Regions from separate parts of the Homo sapiens genome. Here all the other regions are reported to be linked to region 1. The links are microRNA targets in miRTarBase. Many come from high-throughput screens and were not tested one by one. Region 1 holds a microRNA gene; each other region holds the end of a gene's coding sequence.
What was found. Region 1 holds the annotated microRNA hsa-let-7b-5p (UGAGGUAGUAGGUUGUGUGGUU, at 2,934-2,955, opposite strand). A microRNA usually pairs through its seed, bases 2 to 8, with sites in the 3' UTR of a target mRNA and lowers its output. Matches are read on the target gene's strand: a 7mer-m8 pairs with bases 2 to 8, a 7mer-A1 pairs with bases 2 to 7 and ends in A, and an 8mer does both.

Region 2: miRTarBase lists NAA15 as a target of hsa-let-7b-5p. Seed matches in the 3' UTR shown: 7mer-m8 at 2,349-2,355.
Region 3: miRTarBase lists SLC30A1 as a target of hsa-let-7b-5p. Seed matches in the 3' UTR shown: 8mer at 4,057-4,064.
Region 4: miRTarBase lists C19orf47 as a target of hsa-let-7b-5p. Seed matches in the 3' UTR shown: 7mer-m8 at 1,075-1,081.
Region 5: the mRNA of PRIM2 is a reported target of hsa-let-7b-5p. Seed matches in the 3' UTR shown: 8mer at 441-448.
Region 6: the mRNA of SLC30A7 is a reported target of hsa-let-7b-5p. The part of its 3' UTR that is shown has no 7-base or 8-base seed match.
Region 7: miRTarBase lists CHRAC1 as a target of hsa-let-7b-5p. The part of its 3' UTR that is shown has no 7-base or 8-base seed match.

The regions. Positions count from the first base shown.
Region 1 is chr22:46,112,589-46,116,645 of GRCh38, reverse strand. It overlaps MIRLET7B (microRNA let-7b), which reads right to left and starts at 2,960; the gene lies at 2,878-2,960. It overlaps LOC124905135 (collagen alpha-1(III) chain-like), which reads right to left. Exons shown (of 2, transcript XM_047441696.1): 2 at 2,718-4,057. MIRLET7BHG (MIRLET7B host gene) reads right to left here. Exons shown (of 5, transcript NR_110479.1): 5 at 2,718-4,057. MIRLET7A3 (microRNA let-7a-3) reads right to left here and starts at 3,897; the gene lies at 3,824-3,897. It also overlaps MIR4763.
Region 2 is chr4:139,387,674-139,391,741 of GRCh38, forward strand. It overlaps NAA15 (N-alpha-acetyltransferase 15, NatA auxiliary subunit), which reads left to right. Exons shown (of 20, transcript NM_057175.5): 20 at 211-3,711. The coding sequence ends at 411. Among named protein-coding and RNA genes, the nearest start is that of RAB33B-AS1, 64 kb to the right of the region's middle.
Region 3 is chr1:211,571,678-211,575,745 of GRCh38, reverse strand. It overlaps SLC30A1 (solute carrier family 30 member 1), which reads left to right. Exons shown (of 2, transcript NM_021194.3): 2 at 1-4,068. The coding sequence ends at 358. Among named protein-coding and RNA genes, the nearest start is that of SLC30A1, 5.4 kb to the left of the region's middle.
Region 4 is chr19:40,318,616-40,322,683 of GRCh38, reverse strand. C19orf47 (chromosome 19 open reading frame 47) reads left to right here. Exons shown (of 9, transcript NM_001256441.2): 9 at 308-3,148. The coding sequence ends at 802. Among named protein-coding and RNA genes, the nearest start is that of C19orf47, 28 kb to the left of the region's middle.
Region 5 is chr6:57,645,875-57,649,942 of GRCh38, forward strand. PRIM2 (DNA primase subunit 2) reads left to right here. Exons shown (of 14, transcript NM_000947.5): 14 at 54-976. The coding sequence ends at 284. Among named protein-coding and RNA genes, the nearest start is that of TRI-AAT1-1, 150 kb to the right of the region's middle.
Region 6 is chr1:100,974,167-100,978,234 of GRCh38, forward strand. SLC30A7 (solute carrier family 30 member 7) reads left to right here. Exons shown (of 11, transcript NM_133496.5): 11 at 644-4,068. The coding sequence ends at 691. Among named protein-coding and RNA genes, the nearest start is that of DPH5, 50 kb to the right of the region's middle.
Region 7 is chr8:140,514,913-140,518,980 of GRCh38, reverse strand. It overlaps CHRAC1 (chromatin accessibility complex subunit 1), which reads right to left. Exons shown (of 3, transcript NM_017444.6): 3 at 1,827-3,855. The coding sequence ends at 3,734. Among named protein-coding and RNA genes, the nearest start is that of CHRAC1, 5.6 kb to the right of the region's middle.

The sequences.
Region 1 (4,057 bases):
GGGGCTGGCCTCGGAGGTGGGGGCTGCTGCCACACGGTGTCGCTGTCGGGAAATGCACAGTCCGAAGGCGGGGGTGGCTGGCGGGCAGTGGCCCAGGCTGCCCAGGCGGGGCGGATGGTGGGGGAAGCAGGGCAGGGTGAGGGATCGCAGGCATTGAAGGAGGCACTGACCTCCCGGGGCAGGGCTCTCTATGGCTTCCCTGGCAGGGCATGTGGCCCTCCTGGGCCCTTCCTCCACAATTCACAACAAAATCACAAACCGCACCCATGACTGGGGTGGTAAGACACCCAGAACCCAGGCTGGGTTCGCGCTATATTCACCCCATCATCTACACCAGTCTATAATATACTCATTATACATTATATATTCAGTATTGGAGGGGTCATTTTCCCTTCCCGTTTTAAAAGAAATGGAAACAAGACTCTTTCTGGGCTCTCACCTCTGTGCCCCGTGCTGATGTGTGACCCAAGAAAGGCCCCCCGGCCGAGATGCTCCGTGTCTGCCACCTTGCTGGCCTTGTCCTAGCCCTGGCCCTGGATGGCGGCCCTGTCCCTCGGTGCTCAGGCTGCCGGGTTCAAGTGGTGGGCTGGCTTTGCATCCCTCCTAGGAAGGCCAAGGTCAGCGGTGGCCTACTTGAACCTTAGGGCCCAGGGGTCTCTCAAAGGGCCCACTCTGGACAGCCCAGGAGCCCCCTCGAGTCTCTCTGAGCCCTCATCTCCTCGGAGGACAGGGCCACGCCGACCTTTCTTCTGTAGGGTAAGGCTGTGCTCTGGCGGTACTGCCTGAGCTGGGAGGGGTCCGTGGCACGTGGCTCCCGCACAGCCCGGGAAGCTGGGGCCATCCTGAAGGTCCTTGGTCCCCGGCTTTCCTCCCTGGACTTTGTTCTCAAGGCAACTCATCCACATCCCTGGGCACTCTGATCTGGTATCAGCTTAAATCCTCATGGGCGCCCTGGGAGGTGGAAGCTACGGTGACCCCACTGCGAGATGGGAAACAGGTTTGGTGAGCAGAGTGACCAATCTAGGCCTGTCACCCCCAGAACTTCCACAGGCTGCCCTCATCCTATATTTTGGGCGAGTTTTGGCAACCCCATCTCTAGGGACGGCCAGTCAGCAGGGAAGGTTTTGGTCAGCTGGAGGGTAGGGAGGGAAGTGGGGTGAGCCAGGCATCACCTCCTCCAGGAAGCTGCCTCTGACTGCAGGGCTGGGTCCAGGGATCCTTAGGGTTCCCCAGCCCTTGGGCTGCTCCACTGTGATGTTGACCCCAACACATGGCCACTGTGTGTCCCTGGCAGCTCCCCGACCAGGCCTTGAGCTCTGCAGGGCCAAACCCTGCTCCAACTACACAGTATGGGGGCTGGGAGGAGAGGCTGGCTCCTCGGGACGTTCACAGTCTGTTCAGACACAGACAGGGGCTGCGGTGGCCAGAGATGGGTCTGAGCCGTGGACTGAGGGGTGGGGGAGCGGTGGTGAGCAGGAGAGTCCTGGTGGAGGTGAGCACAGGCATGAGGGAGGGGTGCTGGGAGGCAGTGCAGGCAAGGGTGTCAGCAGAGATCTGCTCCGGAGACAGAGGGGGCTGCTCTGAGACTCTGAGGCCTGGCAGTGGGAGTGGGGAGGGATGGAAATGGTGTTTAGAGGACAGAAGTGGCCAGATGTGGCTGCTGACTAATTATGGGGTGAAGAAGGGGATTTGGACAGTGCCCATGTGTCACCCACTCTGGCCCCAGAGGATGATGGGAGAAGGGACCATGGGGCACGTCACTCATCTCCAGCTGCAAACTCCTACGCAGCTGTCAAGACCCAGCTCAGATGGTCCCTGCTTTAGGAAGCCCTCCCTGCCCTTGGGCCCCTCCTCCACGTCCCTTTGCCCTTGGCCCACAGGGTGGCAGCAGCTCCGGGAGGGTAGGCAGGCCTGGGCTCTGAGGTGTTTGCCGTGCAGGACTGGCACAGATGGGTGTCAGGGTAGGGGTGCCGGTCTGCCCAGACGTGGCCATGCAGGGCTGGGGTTGCCTGCAGAACCAAGGCAGGCCAGGAGGGCACAGGGGGGAATCTGGGCCAAGATTGTGGCCTGGGTCAACAGGAGGGGCGAGGATGGGCACTTGGGTGGGGGAGGTGTGGGCCCAGCTGTATCAGCCCCTCCCCACCAGGGGCTCTCGGTGCTGGGCCAGGCATGAACAAGCCCACCCCACATGCCCAGGGCGGGATCACTGGGCCCAGCCTACGGCAGCTGCTAGACGAGGGCCTGAGGCCTCCCAGGAGAATGGGTGCACTTTTGGGATGGCAGTCTGTCAGAGGAATTACGGGTGCCCTGGAAACTGTCCTGAGGGAGGACGGAAGGACAGGCACGTCCAGACTTTGGTCAAGGCACTTAAGGCACGGAGGTGGCCTCAGGAGCCAGGACTTGGCAGTGCTCTGAGCTGCTGACCTGGGGCCTTGGTGGCTGCCCCGTGGGGACCTCTCCACCGGGCCTGGGTCCCGGTGTTCAGCCCGCCTGGCTCAAAGGCAGCACGAGAGGGCAGAGAACGGGCTGGGCCTGGGATCCTGAGCCCAGGGTACAGCACGGAGCCAACTGAGGACTCTGGAGGCACCGGGAGGCGTGAGCAGACAAGTCTCATGACCTGGAACAGCTCGTGGCCAGGGGCCTCCACACTGTCCCGCAGCAGACGCGCCCCAGAGCCCAGTCCCTGGGCTTCCAGAATGAAAGGGGCCAGTTCCAAGTTCATGGTCAGAACAGCTTTATTGAATCTAGCTCCCAGATGCCCACCCAGCTTCGGCTCAGGCCCCCTGCAGGTCACTGAGGTGGGGGGCAGCCCTCCCGTGGGGTCGTGTCACTGAGGTAGGGGGCGGCCCTCCCATGGGGTCGTGTCACTGGGCTCCTCAGGGAAGGCAGTAGGTTGTATAGTTATCTTCCGAGGGGCAACATCACTGCCCTGAAACCACACAACCTACTACCTCACCCCGCCAGGCCCGGCCTTGCACTGCGGGAGGGCCCGCCGCCCCCCGCCCAGCACCAGCCCCTGCCTGGCGGTCCTCAGTCACCAGAGCAGGAGGGCTGGGCAGGCGCAGGGCAGGAGGGACAGGGGAGATGGCACCCCAGGAAGGGGCAGCTGCTGCTGGCTGGTCTTGGGAAGTCCCTGGCTCTCTGGGCCTCAGTTTCCCCAGGTACAGAGGAGCCACTGTCTGCCTTCAGATTGTGCCATGTGGGACCCAGTGTATGCAGAGCTGTTCCTCTCACTTCCTGCTCAGGAAAGGTGCCTTGGCCTCCCTTCCTCCACAGGCAGAGGCCCTGCCACTGAGCTGGCCAGGCTGGGGCACGTGCTGGGAACCTGGGGTGATGGGCAACGCCAATACTCGCAGCCCTGTGACCTCCAAACGTCTCGGCCACCCCTGGCCCCACGGTGCCTTCTCCTGGTGCTCAGTGGAGGGTACGGCTCAGGGCCACCCATGAGCCTGGGCCTGATGGCGGGGGGAGTGTTGGGGAGTGTTGGGAGACAGAGGTCAGACAAACAGCTGCGTGGATCGCCTCTCTCAGTGCGGCTGGGGCAGAGGGTGGGGTCGGCTCAGCTCTCCTCTGCCCTCGATGCTCCACACTGCATCTCCTTCCATCCTCATTTGCCTCCATTTTACAGAGGAGGAAACTGAGACCCAGAGAGATCAGGGGCCTGTCCAAGGTCACACAGCAAGTGGCACCTAGGCCTGTCAGACTTCTCAGTGTAGGCGGCCCCTGCCCCCGACTGCTGCCAAGGCTGCCCCCAAACCTGGCCCTGCCCGCTCCCAGCCAGGGTTCCAGACGCTCTGTCCACCGCAGATATTACAGCCACTTCAGGAAAGACAGTAGATTGTATAGTTATCCCATAGCAGGGCAGAGCCCCAAACTATACAACCTACTACCTCACCCCAAAGGGCAGTCGGTCTTGGTGCCGATGGGACTCCGTGGCTTCCAGAGGCACCTCCTGGGGACGCGGGAGGAAAGAGGGCTGAGGAGAACAGGGGCTCGAGGCTCGGCAGGCCACACGCACCAAGGGCACAGGGATTCTGGCGGGCAGGCGCGGTGGGCG
Region 2 (4,068 bases), not on the chromosome of region 1:
TTAGCCTTTTGTATAAATCCTGCAATTCTGGAGAAATGGTTAAATTAGGCCTTGAAGAACATTCTAATAGAATGCATATGCAGGAGTAAATAGCTAAATATGTGTATTTATTTCTTATTTTAGAAATCTCTTGCTGTTGAAATGTCTAATAAATTCCCAGTAAGAACCTTTTTTTGACCAGTTACAACATGACTTTTTTTCTTTCCTTAGACATGTATGGAGGTATTGGAAGCCTTGTATGATGGTAGCCTAGGAGACTGTAAAGAAGCTGCTGAAATTTATAGAGCAAATTGTCATAAGCTTTTCCCTTATGCTTTGGCTTTCATGCCTCCTGGATATGAAGAGGATATGAAGATCACAGTTAATGGAGATAGTTCTGCAGAAGCTGAAGAACTGGCCAATGAAATTTGAACATCACTAAACAAGCAAATGGAATGACTTTGGACCATATCTAGTATATAATATTTTTGTCACGCACCTGCTGCATTGCTCTAACTTACACAGAATGAGAGGAGTAAATGTTCTTGCCTTCAAATAGTGTTTTACGTTTTTTATCCTGCTGAAAAAGTATATATAAAATATCTAACATTACAGGATAGAGGTTCAGTTTCTTAAAAAATTAAAGCTGCTAAAATTGAGTGGTTAAAAAAGATACCTTATCCTATTCCTCCCCACCCACCCATGTTTTTAAACTAATTTATATAAAATCTGGAGGCTGTTACAGCTAACAAAGCAGGTGTGTGGCAGAAATATTACTTTAAATTTGTCTTGTGAGATTTTACTATATCTCAGACAGCATAAATGCTGTTTTAGCACTGGATTCTTTCACTGAGCACAAAGAGTTGTTGGGGCTTTAGCATCTGACTGATTTTGTTACGGGGTTGATTCTGACCATAGGAAGTATGCAATGTGAATCACTATTTACAGAGAAACCTACAACAGATGCTTGATGTTGTAGAAACTGGGACATATAGATACCAAGCAAAATTATAAGAAACCTATAAGGTGTTCAATACGCTTGTGTTTCCAAAATTCACTGTACATGATCAGTTTGGTGTTCTTGTACCACAGTTTTTAACTGAAGGAACCAGTTGTAACAGTCTCAATTTTAACTAAAACTTGAAGAACTAAAACAACAATGCAAACCTTTCAGCATTGTTTGGCCAAACTTGTTAAAACTGTAATGCAAGAACCAAATGCACTGTGATGTGGCACCAACTAATTAGCAAGCATGAATTTTTCACCCAAGAGTGAAAAAAGGAAAATCTACCATGGCTTGAAGTTAAAGAGCAGAACTCCTGACTACCATTCTATGACTGATCAAAAGACTAATAGTTAAAAACCTCAGCAGGCCTTGTTCACGATATGCAGAAAAAAAAGTGCTGCAGTTTAGATACCTCTGGAATTTTTCCACAGTGTCACAGGTTTGTAATACTTGAAGCCCTACATTTCTAAGAATATATTTCTTGCTCAGTTGTTTCAGGCAAGCCCAAGACTTTGTAATTTTTAAAGGGCCCAAGATTTTTTTTTTTTTTTTTTTTTTCAAATAACAGACCAGCTTCTTTTTCTTGCAGTTACAGATGTAATTTCCTTTTTGTTGTCAAACATAAGGTACCAAATATGATGCAATAAATTGTTTTGAAAAACAGTTGTGTGAATATTTCAACTAATCTGTGTTGGGCTTCTGTGAAATACACAGGTGGAAACAGAGGTGCAAGCCAGAGGCAATGTAATATGCTGTAAGGCTAGTGCAGATGGGAGCTTTTTAGAAGGGGCTAAGTGCTGGTGTCAGGGAAATTCCATAATGAAGTAGAATGCTGCTCCTGCATTAAGATTTCATTGAGGGCAAGGCTGGTGGCAGGTACTATGAATGTAATTCATAATTTAAAAGGAAAACTAAAAACTATTTTGATTTGGGAAAATGAGCCTTAATTTGTTAAACCTATACACTGAGAACTAGCCTCAGGCTTAATATTCTCATTGCATTTGCAAGATCTGAGCAAATAAGATTAAGTAAAACAAATCAATTGTATATATAATTGACCTTTTTGTGGAACATGTAGTTTATAGAAAGTATACTCTAAAGGGAATTTGCCGAAGACCTTTTACTGATTGAACAGTTGTGCTACAATCAACTTTTCATAGTACATGACCTGCATTCCACATCTCAGTCTAACAGTTTAGTAGTGATGTAAAGAGAAGTACAAACCGAACTCCAGTGCTTTGTTATGTTTTATTAACTGGCCCTGTCTCAGGAACATCTTAACAGATGGCAAAAAAACAAAAACTTTTTTTCAACTCCTATGAGTGGCAACTGAAGTTCTTATTGTTGGGAAAGAACACTAGTCCTACCTCTGCCACTAATGAGGTGTTTGGAGGAGGTACCAGCCATATAATAGGGGGTGTATGTGTGAATTTTGTTTAAACTCTACTGTATATTGAAATGAAATTCATTTATTTGTCTTGACAATGTTCAAATGATGTAGATTGTCTTAGAATGAATATTCATAAGTACTCAGAACTCTTAAGATGCAGATGCCACCCGTGAGGAGCTAAATTCCTAATGTGTATTGTATTCCAACCCAATTTTACTGGAACTATTGAATAAATCTTTTATTTTCTTTCAGGTTTACTTGATAGTGGATACATTGGTGTCAGAGGACCTTGACTGGGTTCATTTTATGTCCAGACATCACCCCTGAAACACTGTACTGTACTATCTTGCTCTGAGTAGTATCAACTGGATCGTCTCATATTTGCCTCATTCATCCTATTAATTTCAAATGATACTGTGGGGGAAAAACAGGGTTAGAAAAACAAGTGGAAAAAATGGAGTGATGTTGTAATCTAAACAAGTGCCTTATGTTTATTGCTAAGAACTGGTGTTACCAACCCTTTTGAGAAGAAAGGGTCTCTTGACCTGTATTAACATAGGAAAGTAAAGTTCTTTTTGTTTTTCTTTATATTCAGCTACTCTTGTCATTTCTCGTTGAAAAACTAAAATCTGACTAGGTTAGTTTACTCAGCTTTAATTAGATAGTTGAGTCATATATTTTCAACATTTTTCTGTATCGTATTTATTATGCACAAAAATAAAGTGTGATCTCTAATAGCATGGCTAAAGGTAATGCCAATATTAGTGAATAGCTTTGCTGTGGGCTTTATCAGGCCCTTGTTTTTCACAGTGTTGTTTGTACTCCATGGTGTATTGCTATTAGAGCTGTGAAATGAAAGCTGTGACTTTATGAAGAGATCAAAAAAAGTGTGGTCCAGATTCAGGTAGGTTGTGGTAAGTTCAGGGAAGTCTTGTATGATTTCTAAGAATATTTCAGTTACCATGTATAGTATTTGGGAAAAGCTGTAATGTAAAATATTGGACTTTGTTGCAAGATAGGTATATACTTGTGTCAGATAATTAAAGCCTTAAATTTTGAAATGAATCTTTGAGATTTCAAAGAAAGACTGACCTTTCAAATAGAAGGCGGTCTTTCTATTCTAGCTAATGCCCCACTTCTTTAAGTTATAAACAAAGTTTCATGATACCATTCTGCTATCATCTAAACTTTGCTGAACTCTACTGCCAACCTACATTAAAAACAAAGTCCCACGAAATGGCTGTGTTACACCATAGTGAGCAGAAACTTAAATTTTGTTCTAATTTTGATGGTTGAAAAATTTCAACCTGTAGCAATAAAACATTTTTGGAAAAGATTACTGAATTGCACTTTTACCTTTTAGTATGCAATCTGAGATCGTTGTTGAAATTAAAATATTGGTAATGTACAGGAGGTTCTGGAGAAAATAATGCTGGTGTTTTTTGTTTTGTTTTGTTTTTGAGACGGAGTTTTGCTCTTGCTGCCCAGGCTGGAGTGCAATGGCGCGATCTCGGCTCACCGCAACCTCAGCCTCCTGGGTAGCTGGGGCTACAGGCATGCGTCACCACGTCCGGCTAATTTTGTATTTTTAGTAGAGACGAGGTTTCTCCATGTTGATCAGGCTGGTCTCTAACTCCCGACCTGAGGTGATCCGCCCACCTCGGCCTCCCAAGGTGCTGGAATTACAGGTGTG
Region 3 (4,068 bases), not on the chromosome of region 1:
ATGTGAAGATCCAACATCATACATGGAGGTGGCTAAAACCATTAAAGACGTTTTTCATAATCACGGAATTCACGCTACTACCATTCAGCCTGAATTTGCTAGTGTAGGCTCTAAATCAAGTGTAGTTCCGTGTGAACTTGCCTGCAGAACCCAGTGTGCTTTGAAGCAATGTTGTGGGACACTACCACAAGCCCCTTCTGGAAAGGATGCAGAAAAGACCCCAGCAGTTAGCATTTCTTGTTTAGAACTTAGTAACAATCTAGAGAAGAAGCCCAGGAGGACTAAAGCTGAAAACATCCCTGCTGTTGTGATAGAGATTAAAAACATGCCAAACAAACAACCTGAATCATCTTTGTGAGTCTTGAAAAAGATGTGATATTTGACTTTTGCTTTAAACTGCAAGAGGAAAAAGACTCCACTGAAATTCTAAGTTTGCCAAGTAGTGTAATTGAAGTCCTTGTCTGGTCACACAGTTTAATTCTATTTTTGTAAGAACATAATGGGACTGCATAACAGAGTTCTATATTACAATTTTGTGATTATTAGTACAGAGTACAGCTATGCTGTGACTGTTTTGGAAAGCCAGTTTTAACACTATGTTACATTTTTGTTTAAAGTAAGTTAAACCTTATATAACATAATGACATTTGATTTCTGGATTTTTCCCATGATAAAAATTAGGGGGATAAATAAAATTGTTACTGGAATTTCTCTGCTTTTCTTTTCCCCCAGTGTTATACTTTATTAGAATTATAATTGATAGAACTTTAAAATCATCAACAGTTTGTTTCCTTTGACATTTTAGGTGATATTGCCCTTTGAGATCATTACATAGCATAATGGCAGCATATTTTAAGAGTGACTCATGGCTATTAGTAGGAAATAAGATCAGTTACTATCCTGTATTCTGTATTGCTGGCTATTAAACAGTAAGATAATTAACAAATTGAACTACAGTTTACACACAATGGGGCAAATGGGGTAGTAAGAGCAAGGAAGAAAGTTTACCAAACTAAATATTTAGGTTATTGTATGATAATATTGAGACTACATTTCTAAATTATTTTGAGAATTTCAACTTTTTATTCTACCAAAGTTAATCTGAAACTTGGACATGTTCACCAGCATTACTTTCTTTGAAAGATTGGTATAAAAACATTGAGCTGCAAGTTTATTTACAAAATATATAAGTATTTTTAAGGATGTTGACACCTAATAATTACATGCTAAACGCAAACGATTAATGTAATCTTTTAAACCGGGCGTTTGAAAAAAAATTTTCAAGGTCATTTCATGATAACCAATCATGAATGGATTTAAATGGAGCTTTTTGAGCACAACCAGCAATGTTTGTGCTTTCTAAGAGTCACTGACTTGAGAGGAAAGAAAACCAGAAGGTTAATGCAGTTTGGATATTAAATTCTTAGCAAAATTAATAATTAAAGCAAAATTAATTAAGATTTTGTAAGTCATCCTGTCTTCACATACTCAGATCTTCCAATAGTGGCTTATTTTGCAAGATGCCACAATATCTACACAGAAAATTGTGGCTATTTCATTATTGCTATAGATTTCAAATCCAACACAAATATTTAAGGGTGTTTAAGTTATATTTTTCTTGATAGAGGGTATGCTTTGTGACAAAATTAGATTTTTGTCCTTGAAAGGATTAATATTAGCATCAGTTATGTATAGCTCTATTTTTCTAGAAACAAGGTATTCTGACTACTTTTATAGCTGACTACTTTTGGGATGGCTACGTTTTGGGATTTAAAATAGTTCATTGTTTAATGGGTTGTAAGAGGAAAAAGTGTTAGGATTTGACAGTTACTTTTTAAAGGGATGATCTTTTGTGGTGTGTGTTTTTCCTAGTATAAGCCTATTGCTGGCGATGGGCCTATTTAAGAACAGCTGATTTTTTCCAGTGAAAATATGGTAATTTTAGGAACACAGTTTGTAAGTTCACATTTACTATAATGGGCCAAAACCATAACCTGCCAGTTTGCAATACATCTTGATCTTTTAATATTCTTATCTGATATTGTGTAATTCAATTCCTAAACTGATAGTTACCTTGAATTTTGCGAAAAGGTTTGGGTGGTTTTTTTTAAACATGAAATTGAGGGATCTCATCTGGGCGAACAAGAAGAGAAAGCTGTGAATTGTACTGTATCATGTACATTCCTGATTTAATACTTTACAGAACATTTTATTCAGATATCAATTTGTTACATAAACATTTCAGCAATGATACAAAGATAACTGATAAAATATATTACATTCAATGAGGTTTTCTTTACAAATGCTCTACTTGAGGTCTGTGTCTTAAAGATGGCATGACACCTAAGTACAAGACATCAACTGAATGAGGATTTTAAAAAATGGTATATAAGCATAGGACAAGGGCTATGTTTGTTTGTTTTTCAAAAGTGCTTTGAAGATAACAGCCTTTAGGTTTGAGTTATTTCACTTTTCATAATTTTTAAGTAGCTTATATATAATGGTGGTACCATAGGATTTTCTTTTTTCAAATGACTGTCGGCAGAAACAGTGGGCACTGACTCACCTTTTGAGTTTTAGCAGAGAATTATTTATTTCTTTACAATGCACTTTCTAACCCATTGTAGCTATATTAGCATTATCTTTTAAAAAAGACATGCTTTTGTATTTAAATATTGTAGGATTTAAGTGTCTTTCTCAAAATAGCTTATTCCTTTCTGAAAGAAAATGAGGGAAATACTCTGAATTATTAGGAGACTTAAACCCAATATTTAAATATGCTATTTTATAACACTGCATCAGTTTTAGGAGTTGCATCTCTCCTGCTGGCTCTTTTATATTTGAGCAAGATCAGTGTAGAATATGTGTTTAGAAACTTGTCTGTTGTCTCAGTTTAGTGAAAAGGAGGTGCTGCATGTGCCTGAATTAAAACCAAGAAATTTTTCCAAGCCAAATGCAGCCTTAGTGATGAGAGATTTAATTCTCCATTGTCACCTTTTAGCTTTTATGATTGCTTAGTTTTTTCTGAAGGATGTCTGCATTGTAAAACTATGGACTAAAACCTAAAAAACAGAATCCTCAAAAACTTTGCTGTATGTGTTTTAACATTTTAGAGAACAGTATGTTGAATAACTAAGGTATGTAACTTGAATAGGAAAAATGTCCATCAAATGCACCTTGGAAAATCACAGTAGGTAGAAGGCTGTGTTAACCGTTTGTGTCTTATTAACATCCTTAAGTTAATTTTGAATTTTTGACAGTTTTGAGGGAAAAGACCTATGGAACCTAATGTGAAGTATTTCGTATGTTAACTGGTGTTGAGTTGAAGATTTTTACTGTGTATAAGCAGATATCATTTGAATGATAAAAATGTCATTAACCTGCTGTCTTAAGATGTTCACACAAATATGGAGAGTAATTCTACAATATAAAAATATTTATTTTAATACTGAGTTTCAGTTAAGTCATAAACAGTGTTAAAACTCTTGGGAAGGTGTAGGGGTTTTTTGTTTGTCATTTTTAAAATTGAAACTGTGTCATACAGTGTTTCACGTCTCTGAAATTGGGATTATAATAGCACTATTTTGATGTAGCTCTACCGATACTATGTGGTAATGCTATTTTGTTTTACTAACAAGCTCTGGAATATTTAGCAGTCATTTTCACTGGCACAAGAGCCTTTTGTATGTTATTCAATTTAAACTTTTAAACCAAAAATTTTATGGTCCAGTGTCTTTGGCAAAAAGATGCTGGAGGGAATGTAACATACAATTAATATGTGGTTATATATATATATAAAAAGACACAAATTGCCATGTTATGGTTCTGCCTTGAAACAGCACAATGAAGTGTATCAGTATATTCTGTGATTATGAAACTTATATGTTGTGTTGTTTTGTGTCTTCTGTTGCCTGTCCTTTGGGCCAGATGTGGGCCAGTTAAATGCAGTTATCATCTCATTAAATACAGATGCAGATAAAATATCTTTAGTGCTGCAACATTTTACCTAACTTTTTGTATGTTTTCATGACTGTGTGTTATTTTCCAAAGCTGTTCCTACCTCACCAT
Region 4 (4,068 bases), not on the chromosome of region 1:
CTTGCAAATGACATTCCCTTTGTGCGGCACTCCCGTCCTCTTCCCTCTTTCTTAGACCTACTTCCAGCTCAGATGTCCCCCCTCTCAGGGCGCCCTCCCTGAACTTCTAGGAAGGTCAGGTACTTCCTCTGGGCTCCTCCAGTCCCCTGGACTCCCCCATCATGGCTCTCGCCACTATCTGGGGTGTCAGTGATGGGTGTTTCTCCCAACTGTGAGTCCCAGGAGGCCAGGCACAGAGGAAGCAGCTCTCCATGAATGTGTGTTGAGTGACTCAGTGACTCATTCATCCTGTCTCTGACCTCCACAGCCCACAGGAGTCTTCAGCCGCCTGGGGGCCACCCCAGAAACGGACGAGGATCTGGCTTGGGACAGCGACAATGACAGCAGCAGCTCTGTCTTGCAGTATGCCGGGGTCCTGAAGAAGCTAGGACGGGGCCCAGCCAAGGCCAGTCCCCAGCCAGCACTGACTGTCAAAGCCAAGGCCACAAGCTCAGCGACAACGGCTGCTGCCCCGACACTGCGGCGCCTGGCGCTTTCCTCACGGTCTGGGCTTGAGAGGAAGCCGGAGTCCTTGTCTAAAGTCAGCATCATCAAGAGACTGGGCGCAGCTGCCCTTGTGCCCGAGGCCCAGGACAGCCAGGTCACCAGCACCAAGAGTAAGTCCTCAGCCGAGGTCAAGGTCACCATTAAGAGGACTCTGGTGGGGCCCCGGGGGAGCAGCTCCAGCGAGGGCCTTGGTGCCCAGATGGACCACGCGGGCACTGTGAGCGTGTTCAAAAGACTGGGCCGCAGGACCTTCTAGCCCACCTGTGGGCGGGGTGCAGGCAGCAGAGCCTGCGGGCATCTGCCCTGGCCGCCCCAGGCTCCTGGCTTCATCACGCCTCCCACCAGCTCCTGGATGACACAGCTTGTCTCCCTCGGGCTCTAGAGCTAGGCCCGAGCATTCGGGGGATCACCCCATTTCTCCTAGCCTGGGATGGTCGTCGCAGCTGGCCTGGCCTGCTCCAGGACTCCCCTTCTCTCATGTCCTCTGTGCTTTCTTCTCTGGCTGTGGCCTTGGCAGAACCCACTTTTCTACCTCTCCCAAGTGCCAGGGGGCTTCTTCCTCTCCTACATTCCCCTTCTTCCCCTGAGCAGGGTCTGCTGCCTCAGACCCCAGCTCATCAGCCTCCCTGTCCCCCTCAACTAAGTGGGTGTCACCTGGTGGGCCTCCCTTCCCCCACTCCCCACTGACCTCCCTCACTCCTCTGCGCCTCCCCCCACTGCTGTGACTTCTCTCTCTCCCTGTCTTCACTTTGTTCATTTCTCTTCTGTTTTCTGTCCCCGTGGCAAGGCCCGACTGTCCGCTGCGTCCTGCCCGACCCTCCTGTACCTCCGGCCTCCCAGCGGCCCCCTCGTCGGCGGTGGCGTCGAGCCTGTTGAGACTGTTAGCCGCCCTCTACTCCCAGGCTGGAGGGACCTCTCCAGACCCTGGGCTGCGGCTGAGGCGCATCCGTTTTCCTGCCCTGGGCATCTGTCTCTGAAAGTGTATGGCGGGTGGTGGGCAAGGGGCACTGGGAAGGGAGGCCAGTGCCTAGAGTGAAGACAGCTGCTGTTTTAATATATTTTTGTGACTTTCAAATCATTTCCCCCACTCCTTCAGGGTGAGTTGCAGGACTGTTTCACACTATGCGCAGCTGGGCTGGGGATGGTGGCAGAGGATTGGGCTGTGTCTCTAAAGGTCAGGCTTCCTGCACACACATGGTCCATGTCCCTGCTGCAAGCCCTGAGTCAGGGGGAGTAATGGCCACAGTCACCATTCAGTTAGGCCGCCCCCTGCCCCCAATAAGCCGTAGTGGTTTTGTCACTCTATCCCCTCCCCCCATGGATTTCACCTGCCTGCTGGCACCTTTCCAAATGATGGGCTCCGTTTGTGAGACCATGAGTTTCCACTGGTTTGGTCGCCCACCCCTCCCTGCTGCACAGCGCCCCTGAGCCAGGCCTGTCCTAGGAGCTGGTAGCAGGTAGTGAGCAGGGCCTCTCCAGGGATGGGGTGTAGGTAAAGCGGTGGTGCTGGCCAAGGAATCTGAGGAGTGGGAGAAAGTGGCCAGGGCCGCTTCAGTGGTTGTGGATAGGAAGGCCTTGCAGAAGGGGTGACATGGAGGCCAAGTTGGGAATGTGGCTTCATGAAGTTCAGGAGGAGAGCTTTCAGACAGAGGGACAGCCAGGGGCAGAGGTGCTGAGGTGGGACAAGGAACAGGAAGAAGGCTGGTGGCTGTGGGTGAGGGTGGGCCCTGCCTCCAGCATGAGGCAGAGGTGGGTGGGCAGGGGCTAGGTGGCTGGGGGTGTTGTGATCAAGGAGGAGGAATGTGCACAGTGACCCGGGAGTGCTGGATCGGGAGGATTTGGAGCTGGGATGTGCTGAGCTGAGTTTCATTTAGGATCATCGCTCTGGCTTCTGTGAGGAGAAGGAATGGCTGGGAGGGCTGGGGTGGATGCCACTGCAGCAGTCCAGGCAGGAAGCCAGGATGGCTGCGAGGGCATGGCAGTGGGGAGCAGGGAAGAGGGCCGCTTGGGCTGCTTAGGGTGTGCTTTGGAGGAAGAGCTGTGGGATGTGCTGATGGGTTGGAAGTTGGGGCTAGAGAAGATGAGAATCATAGGGCCCGCCTAGATGTTAGACCGGAGCATCTGGGGGAACGGCTGTTAACAGAGAAGGGGAGACGGGAGGAAGGTCAAGGAAGAGGGAGCTGTGTTCTGACTGCATTGCGCCTGTTAGGGTCCCCGCTGGGGCTCAGGCGGACACCTGGGCTGGGGGTTCATGGCTGCTGACAGTGCGCAGGGTACAGCTGGAATCAAAGCCAAGGGCCTTGGCTGGGCGTGGTGGCTTACGCTTGTAATCCCAGCAGTTTGGGAGGCCAAGGCGGGTGGATCACAAGGTCAGGAGTTCGAGACCAGCCTGGCCAAGATGGTGAAACCCCGTCTCTACTAAAAATACAAAAATTAGCCGGGTGTGGTGACAGGTGCCTGTAATCCCGGCTACTTAGGAGGCTGAGGCAGGAGGATCGCTTGAACCCGGGAGGTGGAGGTTGCAGTGAGCTGAGATCGTGCCACTGCACTCCAGCCTAGGCAACAAGAGCGAGACTCCATCTCAAAAAAAAAAAAAAAAAAAGCCAAGGGCCTGGTAATACCAGCTGGAAAGGGATCATAGAGATTGGAGGGAATCTGGGGCCCTTTCCCTGTTTAGAGAACAGGAACTGACAAAAAGAGACAGCCTAGGAGAGGTCAGGGGGTTGGAGGAGAATTAATGAGAGAGCAGGTAAAGATGAGACTAGATCTCATCCGTTTATTTATTTATTTTCATTGTGTGAAAATATACCTCGTGAAATTTACAATTTTAACCATTTTATTTTATTTTTATTGTTTATTTTTTTTTTGAGTTAGAGTTTTGCTCTTGTTGCCCAGGCTGGAGGACAATGTCATGATCTTGGCTCACTGAAACCTCCACCTCCAGGGTTCCAGCTATTCTCCTGCCTCAGCCTCCCTGGTAGCTGGGATTACAGGCACCTGCCACCACTCCCAGCTAATTTTCATATTTTTAGTAGATGGGGTTTCACCACGTTGGCCAGGCTGGTCTCGAACTCCTGACCTTAGGTGATCCGCCCGCCTCAGCCTCCCAAAGTGCTGGGATTACAGGTGTGAGCCACTGCGCCTGGACCATTTTAACTATTTTAAACTGTACCATTCAGTGGCATTAAGTACTTTCACACTGTTGTGTACCCTTCGCCATCATCCATCTCCAGAACTTCTTTCATCTTCCTAAATCCATTATTTTCAGTTTTTCAGTTACGTCATATTGGGGGCTGACTGTGTGTCATGCAGTGTCCCAGGCACTGGGGATGGGGTGTGAAGGGCCGGACTTCAGGATGAGGGACAACTGTAGAGAGCAGTAATAGATGCCTTTCTCTGTGGGGGCCCAGGCTAGACCCTCCTGAGACTGGCTGAGGCCTGACCTCAAAGGACAGCAAATGCTGGCCCTCAGATTCCAGGGGCCGCCCCTTCAGGTCATTGCCACCAGGAAGAGCTCACACA
Region 5 (4,068 bases), not on the chromosome of region 1:
ATATTTATAGCTTTGCCATGCATTAATGCAATATAAATTTCCTTCCTTTACAGGTGGATGATTGTGGCTTTTCTTTGAATCATCCTAATCAGTTCTTTTGTGAGAGCCAACGTATTCTAAATGGTGGTAAAGACATAAAGAAGGAACCTATCCAACCAGAAACTCCTCAACCCAAACCAAGTGTCCAGAAAACCAAGGATGCATCATCTGCTCTGGCCTCTTTAAATTCCTCTCTGGAAATGGATATGGAAGGACTAGAAGATTACTTTAGTGAAGATTCTTAGGCAGTTTTATAACCCTTTTTCCTCAATAGCCTGTTTCCTGTTTTTAAGATTTTGCCTTTGTTGTTGAAAAAGGGTTTCACTCTGTCACCAAGGCTTAGTGCAGTGACACAATTACAGCTGATTGCAGCCTTGACCTTCCCAGCTCAAGTGATCCTCCTACCTCAGCCTCCCAAGTAGTTAGGACCACAGGTGTGCACCTCATATCCAGATAATTTTTTTCAATTTTTTTTTGTAGAGGTGGGGGGTCTCCCTATGTTGCCCAGGCAGATCTCAGACTCCTGGGCTCAAGCGATCCTCACACCTCAGCGTCCCAGAGTGCTGGGATTACGGTTGTGAGCCACTGTGCCTGGCCTTTTTTTTTTTTTTAACCTTTTTGTTTAACTTCTCTCTTCACTGCATCCCAATCCATCTACAGGCATGCACACTTATTAGGAAAGGAGGTTTGAGGTAACAACAGAGACTTTCACTATATTTTGCTTTGACAGAAGGAAAGAGGAGGAGTTTCTATTAAAATCTGTCACTTGAGTGATGTCATTTAAGTCCTATTTTAGGAGATAAAAACAGCTTTGGGGACTGGTTAAAGTCCCCCAGAAACTACAATAAAGAACAACTTTTGTTTTAACTCTTAATCACTTTGTAATTTTGACTCAATCCTTTTCTGGACCATTTTTGTTAATAAATATCAAAGTGTACATGACAGTGTCTGCGTATAATTGGGAGAGTCTTATGTCGTAACAGATTGGACATTACTTCAGTTTTAAAATGGTAATTTGGAGTATCCAACACACTGCTGATCACTAATGAAGATTTTAAACTTTTCTTTACCTTTTTTTAAGAGTTGACCTATTTGTGGTTATTCTACATCAGGCACCTTTGAGTGGCACCAGACCCTCCTGAGTGAACTGTGACTTGGGAATTAACATAAAGTATAGCCAGTTATATTTATTAAGGAATAATAGGGATATTTTATTATGTAAAATAATGGCACGTCTTATCTGCTGCCATTACTCTGGGGACAGGTTCATGAAGAATAGACAATTACCAAGCAAGAAGGTTGTACATATAAAATAAAGTGTTTATTTTACCCTCCAACTTCCATACCTTATTACTTCTGTAGTTGCTGTGAATTACCAAATAGATTTGGTAAATTAAATTAATTTACTTGAGCAATGAATAGTGATACTTATAGTAACCCCCTCCTTTCAGTGCCAGCAATAGAATTTAATAAATGTTGTGGATGATTACAAACATACGAGATCAATGCCCTGTTCTCTCTGCCTGCTTTTGTCAAGGGAGTAAGGTGAAGTTGATGATCCCTGGCACGTATGCCTTGTGGAGCAGTGCCATTGTGGATACCCTCATCTAAATAGTGATTTCCTCCTGGGGCTCTACTCACTCACCAATAGGATTTGGGGTGCTCAGGAAACCCTGTTTGAAACATAGTTCTTCCTCATCTATTACCTTGGAATATGTGAAAAGTATTCGTCTATTTCTGTCTTCTTTTCCTGGTAAAGAGGGATACTTTTATCCTTTTGAATCAGATAGTAACTAAATTGAAAAGAGCACATTGTATTCAGAAAACTAGACTGTTAGCAGCACCATATTTTTAATCATGTGATAAACTGCATCATGATGAAAAGGATTAAACAGGATCAGATCATCAGAAACTAAAAATGTCAACTAATTGAGTTTTCATTTTAGGCTTCTGAGTCAAAGATTTCTTGGAATATTTAGCAACATATAATTAAATGAGATACTATCTATCTAAACTTTTACTTGTCTTGGTGAATTATTATTACCTAGTTCAGAAAATAGTATTATTCCACTACAAATTACCCCTATAAATCTCTGCCTTCTGAAACCATCTGCTACTCCCTTCATCATTTGTCGTTCTCAACAGGAATCTGATGATTGCCTACCACTTTATCCATGGACTGCAAAACCACAAGTCCTTCTTTAAAAAAAAAAAAAAAGAACAAGTGCTACCTGGAGCTGTTTTAACCACAGAATTAAGTTAGCTTTAGAAAGCCGAGCATAGAAATGTAGGTCTTCGCTGTGTTAAAAGAAGGGAGATATTAGAAGCACTCTCGCCACTGTAGTTCAATGAGAAATTTTCTGATAGAATGTTTTGTATCTGGCAGCATTTTGCAAGGCTGTCTTTTTCTACTGCTTCATGTTCTCCTTCTTTTATGAAGCCTGTGCTCCCACCAGCTAAAAGGACAGAGTCCTTAACGGCATGGTAGATGCAGCTTACTGGACTGTTTATTTTATACTGGCAGCCCCAGGAATTTGTGTCATCTCACTTGAATGTTTTATATGTGTCTAGTTGAACTCCAAAATAACACTAGTTTAAATATTAGTTGTATTACAGGTTCAATTCAATTTATTCATAATAAGGTTTGATCTCCTGTATTATACAGAAGAATATATAAACATTCTGTGAAATCTATAGATTAGAGGATAGGGGATAGAGGTTTATAAAAGATCAAAATTAATGCTTTTCTGGTGCTTTTTGGAGTTGGAAAAAGCAATTTATTTTTCATGCTTCACAGGTCTTGACAATTTTGATTTGTTTTCTTTGAGAGCAGACCTGTTTGAATTGGGCGATGTAAAGAACCCAAAAGAAAAAATCAAAAGCCAACAGCCTCTTTTCAAAACCGTAGCCAGTGAAAAAGAAAAGAATATGAGTCTTCCAGATCTTTTAACTGTTAGTCTTTTATTATCTCTTCAAGGAAGAGAGGCTGTATGATTGTATCAAAGACAAAAGAAGAAACAGCAAAAGAAAGAAACTAGGTTGGAAATTTGTAGCTGGTTGAAGCAATGACATTGTTAGGAGAAATTCTGTCACATTTCTTTCAAGTTGTTTTTCCATAATGTTTTTCACTCTGTCCATACAGTACAAAACTTAATTGCCATGTGCATGAAAGAACACTAGGAAGGTTTTAAGTAAACTTTTTAGGACTGCTTATAATATTATAGAGTCATAAAAGTAAATAGTTATAGATTTCGAATGAGCTGGGAATGGAATAAAGCAATGGGAAAGATCTTTAATTCACATAGAATTTTAATAAGCTAAGGGATTTCTTCTGTCTCTAAAAGCATGCAGGGTGTTTTGCTTGTTACACTTTGCTGTCTTATTGATACTCAGGGTCTTTGCAAGCAAACTTTGTAATTCTTTACAAAGAAGAGAAGAAAACTTCTGGGATTTAAGCTTGAAGGGTGAAATGAGACAACTCTAAAGTTCTGTTTCAGTTAGAGTCTACTCTGCAAATTTAATCAAGGTCTTCCGCAGGCATCAGCTTGACATTAAATTTAAGTGCCCCTTAAAGTGAGAGTTTGACAGCAGTTCTGAATGTGAAGCTCAGTCTGAGGACATCTTTACAGCTGGAAGGGGAAAAAAAAAAACGTTGAGAAGCCTCAAACCACTGTGGTAATTAGATCCATTTGTTAACTTCTTTTTTAATGTTGGCAAAGGGAGGGAGAGAAAAGGTTGACAGAGGCTGGAATCAGGAAGGCAGTCCAGAGCTCCCTGTAGAAATCGGGTAAGCAGAGTCCTGTATTGCAGAGAATACTGGCAGATATTCCCTCTGACAAATGAGTGAGATGGGGAATTTATTTTATGAACTTCATTCAGTTTGTCTTCCTTTCAATACACAGAGCCATGGTGTGTGGAAGCTGCGTTTTGGATAGGTGTGCTGGTTTGGTTGTAAGGCCCTTTGGAAGACACAGAGCGTTATTTGGGAGTGGACCTCTGGTGGTACGTTGTTGGCCTGAAGAGTTAATG
Region 6 (4,068 bases), not on the chromosome of region 1:
AGTTTGGGCTTTTAGTGCAACTATCACCTGAATAGTGTACATTGTACCCAAAAGATAATTTCTCATGAGGTTTTTTCAAAGATAGAAACAGCTACAGTGTGTTTGTATGCTAATAGAAGTGATCTAGTTGAGAGGAAGTAAATTGATAATACAGAAGATATTGGGGAGAATTTAGAGAGCAGTATCCTTGAGTAGCAAGTTCATATCCAAAACAGAAGAGAGAACTTGGAGTGCAAAATAATTCCAATAGATGGTTATACTTGCTAAATTGTTTACTAATCATTTATCACAGGAGGATTTAGACAGGGTTGATGTATCAATTTCAACTAGGAGCCAACCAGTCAAGCATCATGGTGTCCTCTAACAGAGTAACTGTAGAAGGTGAACTGCATTTTTCTAAGTATCACCTGGATATCTGGATAGGGTGTGTGACTGTTAACATGGCTCTTTTTTTTTTGTTTGTTTTTTTGTAGTGGTAAATGGAGATTATTTTTTGTAGCTTATGAATATATTTGTTTCTGAAATGATTCTTTTCTTTTTTTAAAAAAGTGAGATTTGTAAAAGAAAAAAAATACTTTCCTGAAATGTGTAGGGTGTTATTAGCTTGTTAGATTTTCTAACTTTTTTTTTTCTTACTTTTCAGGCTGGAGTGAGACAGCTCTACGTACAGATTGACTTTGCAGCCATGTAGTGAATGGAAAGAAATTATGCACCTTTTATGGACCAAATTTTTCTGGTACTGTACGATCCAAAACATTGTACCCAGCTTTTTAAAAGAGAGAAATTATCACTACAACTCCCGAGCACTAAGTAGACGGGGTAGAGTCAGCCGTTCATGCTTTGTGGGGAGTTCACAGCTAAGGGATCAGATTTAAGAGGATATCTCCTGGACTTTTGGTCTTTTCTTTTGTGCTCTTTCCTCCAAATCTTTTTGACTTCTGAGGTTTTTAGCTTAGGATGTTAATTTGTCCTTTTGTCTTTCTTTTTTTGTTTTTGTTTTCTGTTTGTTTGTTTTCATGTTGAATGCCCACACCACCATCCTCTCATCCCAGCCAGTAAGAATTTCAGTTGTGGGCCTCCAGTCTTCTGGAATGTCTTCACTGCAGCTGCTGGAAATCACTGCTTTCATTCCCACAAAACCAGTATTACTTTTTTTTAAAAAAAGAAAGAAATTGGAAATCTGTGCTATACGTAATGTCATAATTGTTGACGTTCTTCAGTATAATCATGTTTGTTAAATTGTTTGTACCTTGCAAACTTATGAACCAAACCATATTGGGTTTTCAAAGTGCCTTTGTATCCAAAAATGTATTTGCCAGCATAGAAATGTACCATCAAGAGTCATGTATGTTTTATTTTTGTTTTTATTTTTTATTTTTTGAGATGGAGTCTCGCTCTGTAGCCAGGCTGGAGTGCAGTGGCATAATCTCAGCTCACTGCAACCTCTGCTTCCCGGGTTCAAGCTATTCTCCTGCCTCAGCCTTCTGAGTAGCTGCGACTATGGGCGTGTGCCACCATGCCCAGCTAATTTTTGCATTTTTAGTAGAGATGGGGTTTCACCATGTTGGCCAGGATGGTCTTGATCTCTTGACCTCGTGATCCGTCCACCTCAGCCTCCCAAAGTGCTGGGATTACAGGTGTGAGCCACCACGCCCGGCTATGTTTTTTTTTTTTTTTTTTTTTTTTTTTAACAATGGATATTCTGTAAAATATCCTGTACAAAACAAGACTATTGCCAGTAATGTATACAAATTGTCTTTTTGTGTACTTCCAGCATAGGTTTGGATATATGAACATTTTTCTTTTATTGTTTTATCTTCACAGAAAATAAAAGGTGTTAATTTGCTTTTTAAAACAAATTTAATTATCACATTTTAAATTACTTTGTGGACTGTGTTTTCAAAACTTTGCAAATTCATCTGTTACACAGAAAATTTTGACTTAAAACATCTGCTGAATTCCAAATTTCTGTAATAGCTACTGTATCTGTGATAAACTTTCCTATATCTTTCCTTGCCATTTCTATGGATTTTATAATGAAAGAAAAAGGCATTGGAGACTGAAGGCAGAAATGGTTGTGACAGTGCTGTTTGGCTTTTTCATTCTTCAAATGCCAAGTCATCCACTTTGTTTTCCTGTTTAGGCTTTGCACAAATACAATTGCTTTCAGGAATCCTAAAGCAGCATTTTATTGAGTTTGAATTATTAAAGGTACAGAGGAAATGTGGTGATGTAGAACTTTTCCTAACACAGGTATCTAGGAAGTAAGTGCTGAGTTGATTTTCTAGGTTCTTACGTATTTGAAAAATAAAATTGCAATTCGAGATAAGTGCTTGAGCACTCTACTTAAGTATTCTCTGTGTTTTATGAAGAGAAAATGATCTGATTTTCCCTTATACTTCATTTTACAATACATATTCCCTTTTAACTTAAAAAAATTGTAAATGTGGGAGAAAAAACCCTGCAGGATGGAAACAATTATTAAGAATGTAGATCAATAAGTACTTTTTAGTGATGTGGCAGAAATCCCTGTTGATTCTAAGTTTTAGAGTGTCTTTTCCCCTATTTCTGACCTACAACTATAAACTACTCTCTATTAGGAGAACTAGACCACTTTCTTCATTCTTTTCTAAACTGCTGCAGATTGCCGTGAACTCTATCAATAGTCTCTTTTCCGCAGGCAAAGTGGCATTTTCTAAACATGTTTGCTTACTGCCAGGTGGTTTGAAATCTATGATTTACTGCAGTAGTATGTGCTTAAAACAACTGTTGAGGTCTTTTAAGCAGGAAAGTTCAAAAGGAAGTGTCCTGATAATGGTACTGGTTTTTCTACAAATATAAGTAGTCATTAGAAGTTTGCAACCACCACCAAGTCTGAGAGAACTCTGGGATATTCTGTGGGTTTTGGCATATTAGATAGAGAAAATGACAGATCTAGATGAAGGGAGCTTTTGGATGTGTGCCTTTAAAAACTGATTATGTATAAATACTGATATTTCACATACGGAGATATTTGAAGACCCAAGTCTGCCTTTCACAGAGCCCTCCATTCCAAGTTTAGTTTTTGTCAAAATATGAATCATTTTATTTGACTGTACTATCAGTACACAAATGCATGAGTATGTTTATACAGTGTTAGACTGATGTGAATTTGCATTTGTTACATTACATTGCCAGCGCATATCATTTAGCAAGTTGGCATTAACATTTATGCTTTAATTAAATGCCAGTATACCTATGTGTGCAGCAGTAAAAAATTAGTGAGAAAAAGCAACTTTTTGTCACTCTTAGGAAATATTTTGTCTTATTAGTGTTCTTGGCACATGTATATTACTAAAGTAGATAATTCCAATGAGAAATACTACCAGATTATTGTTATAAAATTAATTTACAATGTCCCTGATATTGAGCTAACTCTTAAAAAAACCAAACAAAACTCGTATCTGAGTGTAACTTTGCCAATATTTTAAAAGCCAAAATATTCTCTGGACAACAAATTTGTATTGCTCAGGGACAGTTTACCTTGCCTGGTAAACCTTCCCAAACAGAAATATAGCTATACTATCTTTGGTTTTGTTTTTTTGTTTTTTTTGTTTGTTTGTATTAGATGGAATTTCACTCTTGTCGCCCAGGCTGGAGTGTAGTGGCGCAGTCTCAGCTCACTGCAACCTCCACCTCCCGGGTTCAAGTGATTCTCCTGTCTCAGCTCCCTGAGTAACTGGAATTACAGGTGCACGCCACCACGCCCGGCTAATTTTTGTGTTTTTAGCAGAGACAGGGTTTCACCACGTTGGCCAGGGTGGTCTTGGACTCCTGACCTCAGGTCATCCTCCTGCCTCGGCCTCCCAAAGTGCTGAGACTACAGGTGTGAGCCACCGTGCTCAGCCACTAGCTTTGGTTTTTTAAACATAGATTATATTCCTCAAGATGAAGGGCTTAACATATCCACAGCTTCCTCAGTTTGCTAACTCCCCATGCATCTTTGTGAAGGACAGTATCTAGTTTATCTGTAGGTCAGTGTTCCTTGTGCTGTCATTTCCCTTATATCTGGAATTTGTCAGCATTCCT
Region 7 (4,068 bases), not on the chromosome of region 1:
GAAGAATACACAGAAACTCATCTACAGCAATATACTCACTTGATATGGCCTTTGTTATATTCTCGCTATTTCACCATCATTTACTGAATGGCCAGAAGCAGTAATGGTTTAACACTTGCAAGCGAGAGCAAAAGATTCATCTTCATAAAATCATTTTGATAATCTGACAGCAGTATGCAAGGTGGAAAGAGGAAAGGCTGTAGGCACTGTGAGGAAACCACTTAGGAAGCTACTGTAACAACCTGGCACCCGGTTCAAGGAGGAACTGAAAGGGTGAGTGTTCCCTGAATGATCGGATCTCAAACACTTATGGTGCCTTAAGAATGCTTCAGGCTGGGTGCAGTGATTCATGCCTGTAATCCCAGCACTTTCAGAGGCCGAGGTGGGTGGATCACTTGAGGTCAGGAGTTCAAGACGAGCCTGGCCAGCAAGGTAAAACCCCATCTCTACTAAGAATACAAAAATTAGCCGGGCATGGTGGCACACACCTGTAATCCCAGCTACTCGAGAGGCTGAGGCAGGAGAATCACTTGAACCTGGGAGGTGGAGGTTGCAGTGAGCCGAGATCGTGCCATTGCACTCCAGCCTGGGTGACAGAGCAAGACTCAGTCTCGAAAAAAAAAAAAAAAGATGCTATTAAGAGAATGAAAAGTGACTGGGAGAAAATGTTTGCAAATCTCCTATCAGGCAAATAACTTGTATTAAGAATATATAAATCTCTCAAAACTCAACAAAAACTGACATGAATTTTTGTAGGAGCTGCAGAGCCACTGGAACTCACTACTGGTGGGACTGCAAAATGGCACAGCCACTTTGGAAAACAGTTTGGCAGTTTCTTCTTATAAACGTCTGTATCGCATTCCACTCATAAGCATATACCCAAGTAAAATGAAATCCCGTGTTCACACAAAACCTGTACACAGGCCATGCACAGTGGCTCACACCTGTAATCCCAGCGCTTTGGGAGGCTGAGGTGGGCGGGTCACTTGGTTGAGCTCAGGAGTTCGAAACCAGCCTGGCCAACATGGCAAAAATCCATCTCCACTAAAAATACAAAAATTTGCCAGGTGTGGTGGTGGGCGCCTGTAATCCTAGCTACTCAGGAGGCTGAGGCAGGAGGATGGCTTGAACCTAGATAGGAGAAGTTGCAGTGAGCCAAGACTGCGCCACTGCACACCGCCCTGGGCAGCAGAGTTTGCGAGACTCCATCTCAAAAAACACAAACAAAAACCCTGTACACAAATACTTATAGGGCTTTATTAATTATAGTCATCAAGGCCAGGTGTGGTGGCTTATGCCTATAATCCCATCACTGGGAGGCCGAGGTGGGCGGATCATTTGATGTCGGGAGTTCGAGACCAGCCTGGCCAACATGGTGAAACCCCATCTCTACTAAAAGTACAAAAAAATGAGCCAAGTGTGGTGACGCCGTGCCCGTAATCCCAGCTACTCAGGAGGCTGAGACCCAAGAATCGCTTGAACCCAGGAGGCGGAAGTTGCAGTAAGCCATGATCATGCCACTGCACTCCAGCCTGGGTGACAGAGTGAGACCCTGTCAAAAAAAAAAAAAAAAAAAATTACAATCATCAAAACTAGAAACAATCTAAATGGGTAATTATCCATATACCTGGAAAATGGATAAACAGATACATCCATACAATGGAATCCTACTCAGCAATATAAAGGAATGGACTGCTGATACCTGTGACAACACGGATGAATCTCAAATGCATTCTGCTAAACAGAACAACTGCAGACTCAAATGCTACATACTGAATGATTCCATTTATATGACATTCTGGAAAAGACAGGCCACCAAACTGGTCTGTAAGCCAAATCAAGTCATTTTTTAATGGCACATAAGCTAGCAAGTATTTACATTATTAAATGGTTGGAGAAAACAGTATTTCATGACACATGAAAATTACACAAAACTCAAGTTTCAGTTTGCAGAAATAAAGCTCTATTGAAACACAGCCACCTGCATTCCTTCATCTAGTAATTACCTGGCTGCTTTCGTGCTACAACAGCTGAGTTCAGCAGCAGCAACAGAGACTATAAAAGCCCACAAAGCTTGAACTATTTACTGCATGGCCCTTTCCAGAAAAAAATTTGATGACACCTGGTATAGGGACAGAGAATAGCTTGACGGTTGCCACGGTAAAAGGTGGGGAAGGAGCTGACCACAGGGAATTTACTGGAGGGTGATATAGCTGTTAATTGTGGTGGTGGTAGTGACTTGACTGCATTTGCCAAAACTCAGAACTGTACACCAAAAAGTAGATTTTAAAATATTTTATTTTAAAATAAATGTCAATGAACAAGAGGGACAGAAAACACCAGTGGTTGCTAGGGGGCAGGAGAAGAGAGGAACAGAGGAACAGAGGGGAATGTCCTGGGTGGCAGAACTGTCCTATCGATTGGTTACAAAACCATGCATTTGTCAAAATTCACAGACTAGACACTAAAAAGGGTGATTTTACTGAATGTAAATTATAAACTTTTTCATTTTTAAAAAAGAGATAATGAAGGCCAGGCATGGTGGCTCACGCCTGTAATCCCGGCGGCACTTTGGGAGGCTGAGGCAGGTGGATCAGTTGAGGTTAGGAGTTTGAGACAAGCCTGGCCAACATGGTGAACCCCGTCTCTACTAAAAAATACAAAAATAGGTTGGGCATGGTGGCACACGCCTGTAATCCCAGCTACTCAGGAGGATGAGGCAGGAGAATCACTTGAACCTGGGAGGCGGAGGTTGCAGTGAGCTGAGACAGCGCCACCGCAATCCAGCCTGGGCAACTGAGTGAGAATCTGTCTTTAAAAAAAAAAAAAAAAAGATAATGAAATGAGAGGAGCCAAACATTTACCCTAAGTGGAAAAAAAAAATTGGGCTTATGATAGGTTTTCTCTTATAGACAGTAAAAAGAAGTGCCAGGAATTTAAAGCAAAGAACAGTAAGATGAGAGAGATCTCCAATATACAAAATGTTTCAAAATTTTTTTTTAGTACAACATGCTTATACAAGAGGTAAGACTTATTTTTGTATTTGATTTGATAATTTGACTTGGAATTTTTCTGTGGGAATAAAAGTGTTAGAATGCTTATTTTTAAATTTCTCAAAATTTGCAGGCAGTAAGCAAGGCCTTAAAGCCATAGAGGGCTCTAAAACTAGTTCCATAAAGCATTTTACTGTAAAAATATGTACAGATCTTTAATAGAAAAGTATATTTCTTTACAGTAGAAAAATATCTGAACAGTCAACTTTTCTTAAGACAAAAATTCAAATGTAACATACTACCTAAACTATAAATTTAGCTAAAACTGAATCGAGCTGTTTATAAGAACTGATTCCAAAATATACATATATGAATTTACATAACCGATATGTAGAAGCTCTTCAAAATCGACTGTAAATTGAAAAGTTAAAATTGGCCTTGCCTCTGCAGTTTGGAGCTGCAATGGCTGCCAGTATCGGCTGTTTTCTTGGTGCCTGAGCTGCAGGGTGGGCCTGTCGAGGAGGGGCTGCTGTCTGGGTCGCTTTCCCTCTGGCTGTCTGTGGCGTAGGTACATGAGGTGCTCAATCTCGGCCTGGAAAGAATACCTCGAAAGAATACCACACACTGGAACTCTGTGAAGAAGTGAAGACGCTAAAAGCGGGCAGTGCTGTGTTTACTTAGAGACAGTGGAGTGGGTCCAGGGCTGTCCTCGCCAGGCTGGTTTTTAAAGCACTTTTGGTTTAGGAGTCAGCTTCATCATGGTCACTTTCATTATCATTGTCATTCTCCTCATCTTCTTCCCTCTTTTCCTCTTTAAGCATTTTCAGGTATTTACTAGCTAAAATCTTCTTTGGTAATATATCTTAAAAACATAAAGCGTACATCAGCAATTGGTTATGGTAGACTATGAACACAGCAATGCACATTTCAAAATGTACTAGTTCCTGCTTTGACCTCTATAAGAGGTTCCAAAACAAGATGAAATTCAGGCTGCATTTCTGGGTAAAATATCAAAGAAACTAGCATTGTCTCCTAACGAACGCTATAGGCCTCTTTCCAGTCCAATGAGTACAAA